Regions from separate parts of the Homo sapiens genome. Here regions 1 and 2 are each linked to region 3. Evidence: fine-mapped QTL for protein levels in blood plasma. A gene starts in region 3. Each other region holds a variant in brackets. All regions are shown on one strand. Distances are between the middles of the regions.

The links. PIP is the posterior inclusion probability: the model's chance that the variant is causal. Protein levels are from antibody-based Olink assays in UK Biobank. Linkage for the fine-mapping came from a reference panel and not from the study's own genotypes, which makes the PIPs less certain.
Region 1: its variant is fine-mapped to the plasma level of the KLK6 protein (UK Biobank, PIP above 0.99).
Region 2: its variant is fine-mapped to the plasma level of the KLK6 protein (UK Biobank, PIP above 0.99).

Annotation. Positions count from the first base shown.
Region 1 is chr19:54,254,205-54,256,957 of GRCh38, forward strand. It overlaps LILRB5 (leukocyte immunoglobulin like receptor B5), which reads right to left. Exons shown (of 13, transcript NM_001081442.3): 3 at 2,285-2,569; 4 at 1,839-2,138; 5 at 1,082-1,378; 6 at 531-833; 7 at 161-211. Among named protein-coding and RNA genes, the nearest start is that of LILRB5, 1.7 kb to the right of the region's middle. The variant T/C (reference allele first, on the strand shown) is at 1,599.
Region 2 is chr19:54,249,977-54,252,729 of GRCh38, forward strand. It overlaps LILRB5 (leukocyte immunoglobulin like receptor B5), which reads right to left. Exons shown (of 13, transcript NM_001081442.3): 10 at 2,510-2,573; 11 at 2,390-2,427; 12 at 2,078-2,130; 13 at 1-956. The coding sequence ends at 810. Among named protein-coding and RNA genes, the nearest start is that of LILRB5, 5.9 kb to the right of the region's middle. RefSeq lists an enhancer at 1,518-2,135. The variant T/C (reference allele first, on the strand shown) is at 1,294.
Region 3 is chr19:50,968,944-50,971,670 of GRCh38, forward strand. KLK6 (kallikrein related peptidase 6) reads right to left here and starts at 648. Exons shown (of 7, transcript NM_002774.4): 1 at 547-648. All of the region lies in intron 4 of LOC105372442 (a long non-coding RNA gene), which reads left to right.

The sequences.
Region 1 (2,753 bases), 3.3 Mb after region 3:
AGAGCCCCGGGGAGCCTGTGGCCCCTCCTCTGGCTCTGCCCAGCTCCCTGGAGGGAAGCTCCCGCTTGAGTCTTTGAGGGGAATAGGATCCTCGGGGAGACTCAGGGCTGCCTGGGGGGAGACCACGCTCCCTCCGAGCCCAGAGGCCTCAGTGACTCACCAGGTGTGGGGGTGGAGCCTGTAGGTGAGAGGCTGGGATCCCCAGAGGGTCCTGGGAATAAGCACAGAAAGGGAGCGAGGCGCTTTGGTGCTGAGTGAGGAAACCCGTCCCTCCACCTGCCCGTGGCTTCTCTGGAAACTTTCTTCTGCTCACCTTTCACCATTTGCATCCCAGGAGATGGGGCCAAGTGTGGGCATGCCTGGGGAGCCCCCGTTGTCCTCCTCCCCTCTGAGGGGTGAGTCTCCCTCTGGCTGAGCCCCCCTCAAACCCTCCCCCCCGCACCGCGACTCCATCCCAGCCCAGAGCTCTCCTGGGGGCAGGGCCTGAGCTGAGCCTTTGAGCTTGGACAGGACAGGGTCAGGGCCCTCACCTGAGACCACGAGCTCCTGGGGGTAACTAGGGCTGGACAGCAGGTAGGGGTAGGACCTGATTGCGCTGTAGCATCGGTAGGTTCCACCCTGGGCTGAGGTCACAGGACTCATGGAGAATTCAGCCTGGTGTCTATAAGACTGGTACTTTGACTTTAGACACAGCGGGGGATGGGCTGCCCCCTCCTTGGTCAAAAAGAAAGTGTCTATCTGATGCCATGACTGACACAGCAGGGTCACGTTCTCTCCTGAGGCCACCTTGGGGCCCGGCTGCACCGAGAGGGCGGGTATGTCAGGGATCAGTCCTGGAGAGAAGAAGGATGGGTGAGGGGCTGCCCCACCTTGCTCTGAGCTGAGACCTCCCCAGGCCTCTCTAGGAGCCTCTGTCTCTGTTTTCTCTGAGTCTTCCCCTCCCCACCCATCCCCTGTCTCTGTCTGTCTCTCCCTCCCTTGGGACCACCCCCCCGCCTCATCCCGGCCATCACTAATTGGATTCCCCCGGCAGGACCTGTGCAGAGCCTGGGTCCCTGACTGAACCCGCTGGGCTCCTCACCTGCGATCAGGATGTCCAGGGGGTCGCTGGGGGCCGACCACCTAGGGGAGAGGTTGTGTGCACCGTAGCATCTGTACTGGCCCCCGTGGGAGCGGCTCACAGGGCCCAGGGTGAAGTTGGCCTGGGAGAGCCCAGCCTGGGGCTGCTGGCCAGAGCCCTGGACGAGGTCATGTTCCCCCTCCTTGTACAGAACGAATATGTCATAGCCGACATCAGAGCGACACTGCAGGGTCAGGCTGCCTCCGCGGGCCACGACAGAGCCCTGCGGGATCAGGAGGGAGGGCTTCCTAGACACGCCTGGAGGGAAAGAGGAATTGGGACTTGGAAGGCTGGTTCCTCCCCCGCCCCTTCCTTCTCCCGTCCTGGCGTCCTGGCCCTGCAGGTCTCACTGTCTCTCACGCTCTGTGTCTCGGATCCCGGGGCCTCCTTCTCACCTGGGTCTGTCTTGGAGTAGTTCCAGACCGATAGTGTCTCTCTGACTCCTGGCCACTGTCTGTCTGGTCTGTCCTCTCCTCAT[T/C]GAGGGACAGGAAATTGCAGCAAATACACCCATTGCCTTCCTGAGTCGACCCCTTCCAGGTGAGGGTGACTCAGGCTCCTGTTTCCCCATCTGAGCCTCCCCGTGGGGTCTTCCTCACGCCTTCAGCCCATCCATCAACACATCCTTCTGGGGTCCTTGCCATGATCAGTCATCAACCAAACTCCCAACAACCTATCTGGTTCCCCAAAATTATATAAAGAAGTGTGGTGGCTTTTTCACCTGGGACCAGAATCTCCAGGAGGTCACTGGGGTTCGACCACACCTGAGGGTTTTTCCTGTAATAGTAATAGCATCTGAACCTCCACCTGCAGCTGGGGGTCACGGGACCCACAGGGAACAGGGCCTGGGATGGCCCTTTGGGGAGCTTCTGTGAGTACAGGGTCCTGGGGAGCTTCTGTTCTTCCTCAACAAGAACAAACGTGAGAAGTCCGTCCAGTGTATCACACTGGAGGGTCACATTTCCTCCTGAGGCCACCACAGGACTCGGCAGGGCTAAAAGAGTGGGTTCTGCATAGAATCCTAGCAGAGAAGGAGGCACGTCTTAAGTGGGGCTCCGACCTCCCACATCATCCCCAGGGCTGGGCTGTGAGAGGTAGACGTCCCTAAGAGCCGACCCTCTTCCTGAGGGCAGAGCCTGGGGCTGGGACCCCTGAGTGTCCTCTCACCTGTCGCCACCAGCTCCAGGGGGTCACTGGGCTCTGACCAGCCTGCAGGGGTCTCATAGTAGCAGCGGTATCGCCCTGCACTGTCATACACCGTGGATGGAATGTGGAACTTGGCCTTGGCTCCAGGCTCCAGTGGGTTCTGTCTCTTCCGGGCCCATGGGAGTCCCTCCTTATCCAGACGGTACTCCTCAGTCTCCAGGGGCCCCTGACACCAGAGGGTCACGGGCTTCCCCCGAGCTATCACAGAGGCTGGCTCAGCCCAGAGGGTGGGTTTGGGGAGGGTGCCTAGAATGGAATCAGAGGCTGGATCCCAAGACATCCCCATCCCTCAGATTCCAGCTCTCAGCCCCAGGACCCTCCAGACGTCCCCATCAGTCAGCCCAGAACAGCTATCTCCACCCCCAGCTGCCCGGGGTTGGGCCCTTGTCCCCAGTGAGAAGAAGGGACCTGGGACAGCTGGGGACAGACT
Region 2 (2,753 bases), 3.3 Mb after region 3:
GAGCCGAGATCACTCCACTGTACTCCAGCCTGGTGATAGAGCGAGACTCCGTCTCAAAAAACAAAACAAAACAAAACAAAAACCCTCACACAAAAACCAAGACAAATCCCCTTGACACAAGTTTATCTGTCTAACAAACCTGCACATGTATCCCTGAACTTAAAAGTGAAAAAAATAAAGGCAATATGTGTCAGATTTGTGGTGGTGTCTGCTGTTTCACCCCCATATGGAAATGTGTGCCTGAACCCCGCTTTTTTCCTTGCTTATTGTGGCTAGGATTTGTGAATGTAATTCACATTCTCAAGAATGAGCTTTTTTGGCTTCATCGAGTTTTCACGTAGCCCTCATTAGTAACTCCTCTTGTTATTTTTGTCCCCTTCCTCACACCTTCATTTGGAATAATTTGTTGTTCTTTTTCTAAATTCTTTCTGTCATTGCCAAGGTCATTAATTACGTAGGTTTTATTCTTTTCTAATTCATTCGCTCATTTGTAGTTTTCCGATTTCATCATTTAATGTGTAATATTTACATTATCATTCCAAATTTATACCATGCTCTAATTTCTGTTTCAGTTTTCTCAGCTCATTGATTTATTGAGAAGTCTGTGGCTTCATTTCAAAAATGCAAGGATATTAGTCATCTTTGACTGCAGAATCTAGTGAGTCCCAGAGTTCCCAGGATGTCCTGGTGGTCTTTGTTAGGGGTCCAGGCTGGCTGGGGTTCATTGGTGTCCACTGGGGGCAGCTCCTGTGCCTTCTGGAGTCTCTGAGTCTCCTTCTGTTGAGTATGAGATCTGGGTCCCCCGTGGGCTAGTGGATGGCCAGGGGGGCGTAGATGCTGGGTTCAGCTGGAGGTTCCCTTTCCTGGGATGGAGGAGGCTCAGTTGCCTCCCGTCTGAGGGTCAAGCTGTGCAGCTGGGCGTAGGTCACATCCTGGGGGGCTTCAGATGCAGCAGCCTGCAGCGGGGGAGAGTGAGAGGGAAGGAACGTGGTGGGGGTGGGGGAGGCCTGGGGGCCTGGAGAGGAAAGGACTCTCTCAGTGTCCATCTGTCTGTCCTCTTCTGCCTGTCTGTCCTTTGTGTCCAGGAATTCCCCAGACAGTGGGGAAGGAGGAGAGGCCATTTCTCTCCTAGGTCTGGAGTGTTTCACCGGGGCATACGTCACTGCCTGGGGGTCTTCATCGTGTGGGCTCTGCTGGAGAGAGACAGTGGTGGGGGGTGTCCTTGAGTCCCCCTGACCTCCTGGAGTCAATTTTCCTCACTGTTCCCGGGGTGATCCGATTACATCCCTTTCC[T/C]GATGGAATCTCAGGGACGCCCTAAGGCCGTGGAGGGTCTGGCCGCTCCCTCCCTGTGGTTCTGGCCTCTGCTCCTCACTCTGACCTTGCCCATTTGGCTGCAGCCTCACGGGCCTTCCCGCAAGAGCTCGCTGCTGCCTCGGGGCCTTTGCACGGCTGTTTCCTCTGCCTGCAGGGGCTCGTCCATCAGAGGATCGTGTGCCCCACTCTGTCCAGGCTTCTCAGATGACAGCTGAGCAGACAGCCCTCCCCTTCCATTCAGACTGGCCCCACTGCCCCACACTCTCTGCCCTTTCCCTGGTTTATGTTCCTTACAGCACGTTGCACTCCTGGACACGATGCATTTATTTGCATTTTGTCTCCCACCATGAGGTGAGCTCAGGAGGCGGGGGCGGCTTTGCTCCCTGCTGTGTCTGCAGCTCCCATGGGGAGCCCCATCCACAGTGAGCTCCCTGGGAACACTCGCTGGTTGAATGAATGAAGGGGAGCCTGGGGGACCGGGTCGGTTCATTTATTCCTCATCCTCCTGAGGCCTGGGGAGAGCTCTAACAACCAGACGGCCAAACAGAGGATGAGGAGCAGGAAGGGGACCCGGGAGGAGGCCCACGAGGTCCCAGGACAGCAGAAGAGAGTGAGGTCGCAGCAGGCGGGAGGCAGCGTGCTGGACAAGGAGGGGTCCACCGTGACGATGCTGAGAGCCGGGGGAAGGAGGACAGAGAAGTCCTGCTGGATTAGATCTGGCACCAGGAGGCCTTTGGTGCCCGGGACAGGGGCGGGGCCTCACCGGAGCATCCATCTCCACCCCGTCCTTGGGCTGTGTGTCCTTCACGGCAGCATCTGCTGGGCCAGAGCAAGGGGTTCATCTCCTGGGAAGGTTCTCTGAGACTTCTCCGTCCTGCCAGCCCTTGCCCTGTTCCCACTAGGGTGGCTGAGATCCAGGGAGGGACTGTGATGTCCCTGAGGTCCCACAGTGTGGGTTCAGACCGCCTCCCCCTTGGCCCCAGACCCCCCCCAGCCTGTGCTCCTGCCCCCATTGCTACAGAAACTTTGGTGCTCCCTTGCCCACCCCAGGTGCCCTCCGCTTCTAGTCACTCACTGAGAATTTCCTCCTGGATGTCAGCAACTGGGCTGGCCCTGGGGGAGGACACGGGAGTGTGAGGGGCAGTGAGGGGGCTGTGCGGGTGGATGGGAGTCTTGGGTCTTCATGCAGAATTACCTCTTCTGCAGGCCCTGGTCCTTGGGCTCTGGCCCCGCAGCCCCTGCAGGACGGTAGAAATGGGCTGGACAGAGATGGACAGAGGGTCAGGCCTGGGAGAATTCGAACCAGCTGCCCTGCACACACAACTCGAGCGGAAAGAAGGAAACCTGGAGGCCCACTGGCACTGAGGCTTTAAATACGTCGTAAGTTTAAAGTAAAATCAGAAGAATCAAGCACTTCCACACATGCTCACATTTATTCT
Region 3 (2,727 bases):
GTGCAGTGAGGGCCTGGACTCCTGGGTCTGAGGGAGGAGGGGCTTGGGGGCCTGGACTCCTGAGTCTGAGGGAGGAGGGGCTGGGGGCCTGGACCCTTGCGTCTGAGGGAGGAGGGGCTTGGGGCCTGGACTCCTGGGTCTGAGGGAGGAGGTGAGAACTTGGACTCCTGGGTCTGAGGGAGGAGGGGCTGGGGGCCTGGACTCCTGAGTCTGAGGGAGGAGGTGGGAACTTGGACTCCTGGGTCTGAGGGAGGAGGGGCTAGGACCTAAACTCCTGGGTCTGAGGGAGGAGGGGCTGGGGCCTGAATCTGAGGCAGAGGAAGTTCTAGTCGGCTCAGTCCTTAGACCTCCGGGTTTTGGAGAAAGAAAGTGTCTGAAGACAAATTCCGGCCTCTGGGGCAAGCAGATGGTGCCCCAGGCCTCCCTGCACCCCCAGCACTCTCTGTGCCACCCAGGGACCTGCAGGCCCTCACTCCGGGCTCTAGAGCCCTCCGGCACTGGGAAGCAGCCTGCCCAGGTTCAGTGCGGTTGGGGTGACTCACACACCTGCCCGTAGGTCCCTCTGTGTGCTGCCTGCCGACCTCTGTGTCCCCAGGAGAGAGCGAGCCAGCCAGCCGGGGAGACAGCTACAGCGTGTGTCACCACACTGGCCCCCGCCCCTGCCCCGGGCTGGGGAGCAGGCCCAGGCGCGATGGGGAAAGGGCCCAGGAACAATCGGGCTTTGTCCGCCCCCAGCACCCCAGTGCCATGCTCCCAGCAGCTCCGGCCTCAACCTCTCTTCCGGCGGGCAGGCGGGAGGGCGGTTACATCAATGGCTTCCTTTTGTCCCTGTCTGACAGTCCTCCTTTGCAGTCTCTGACTGCCCACCTGGCCCTGACTGGAGATTTCGGCACTCCACATCCTCCTGGTCCTTCTCCTCCAAGTCTGCCCACCCCTGAGGTCTCTTGCTCCATCTGTCTCCCTGGCCATGGAGGGGAGGGAGCTTCCATCTCTCTCTCTCTCCCATCTCAGTCTCTGTATTTGTGTCTCTCTCCCTCTTTTTTTCTCTCTCTCCCTTCCTCTCTCCCTTCCTCTCTCCCTTCCTCCCTTCCTTCCTTCCTTCTTTCTTTCCTTCCTTCTTTTCTTTCTTTCTTTCTTTTTTTTTGACGGAGTCTTGCTCTGTCACTCAGGCTGGAGTGCAGTGGTGTGATCTCAGTTCACTGCAACCTCCGCCTCCTGAGTTCAAGCAGTTCTCCTGCCTCAGCTTCCCAAGTAGCTGGGATTACAGGCACCCACCACCACGCCCGGCTAAATGTTTTTTGTATTTTTAGTAGGGAAGAGGTTTCACCATGTTGGCCAGGCTGGTCTCAAACTCCTGACCTCAGGTGATCCACCCACCTTGGCCTCCCAAAGTGCTGGATTACAGGTGTGAGCCACTGTGCCCGGCCTCTCTCCCTTTCTTTCCCCTTGATTCTCTGACTCTCCGTGCTTATCTTCTCCTGGGTCTCTTCTTAGATTTCCCCGGGGGTAGCACTGTGTGTGCCCAGAAGGGAGTCAGTTTCCCCAGGAAGTAGCGGGGATGATTCCCGAGCGATGAGGAAGCTAGCAGGATGGAAGAGGACTTGAGGACTTATTGATGAGATGCGGACACACAGCGAGAGGCATGGAGTTAAGCAGAAATCGGAGAGCACTTGGGAACGACGTGGGGCTGTGATAAGATGGTGGTGCTGGGCAGTAGCAGAGGGATCTGGGAAGATTTAGGGAGGTGTCTTTGAACTTGGGCCTAGAAAGCTGAGCCAGGCGTAGGTCAGGAGGAAAGGCCGTGAAAATGCCTGGCCTGGGTGCACATGGGAAACCACAGGCAGTGGTTGGGGTGGTTGGTATGGGCTGGAGGGTGAGGGTGTGTGCGTGGCAGAGTGGAGAGAAATGAGGAGGGGGAAGTCACTGCGTAATAAGGACAATGATAGGAATGAAGTCTGGCTCAGCACCTGCTTGGGCTGGGCACTACAGGTAACTTAAAAAAAAAAGTTCTTTTTTCTTTTGAGACAAGGTCTTGTTCTGTCGCCTAGGCTGGAGTGCAGTGGCACGATCCTTGCTCGTGGCAGCCTCAACCCTCCTGGGCTCAAGCGACCCTCCCGCCTCAGTCTTCCCAGGAGCTGGGACCATAGGCATGAGCCACTGTTCCCAGCCAACCCTTTTCTTTGTCTTGCATTGAATCTAATTGTCATCTTGCATTGTGCACCCCCCATCACTCCAGGGATGAAGACTACTTCGGTATTCAGTATACTCTCCGGGTGCTCCCTCTCACATTTGGTCCCCACTGACCTCAGCACCTTCTTCTCAGGACGTGCTATCTTCACAGACAGCAAGTCTGATGTTGCACAACCCAGTGACCAGGCCCTATCCCTCTGCCTCCTCTCTCTGGGGGGTCCCTTCCTCTCTGTACCCACACCCTCAACCCCAACTCAGAGCTGCACCTCTCCCACCTGGACCAGGATCCCTCTGTTCTCTGTATCCCTTGCCCCAGAGAGACCTTCCTGTGCCTTGTGCTGACCTTGCCCCTCCTCTCACAGACGTGCCCTGGGTCCCCATCTCCCTTGGGACCAAGTCCCAGCCCCCCAGCCTGGCATTTGAGGACCTTTAGCATCCAGGGAAGTCCTGGCCAATGAAATGTGATGCCAAGCACGCATGCACATTTACATTTTCCAATCACCATACTTTTTTTTTTAAGTCAGAAGATTTTTTAAG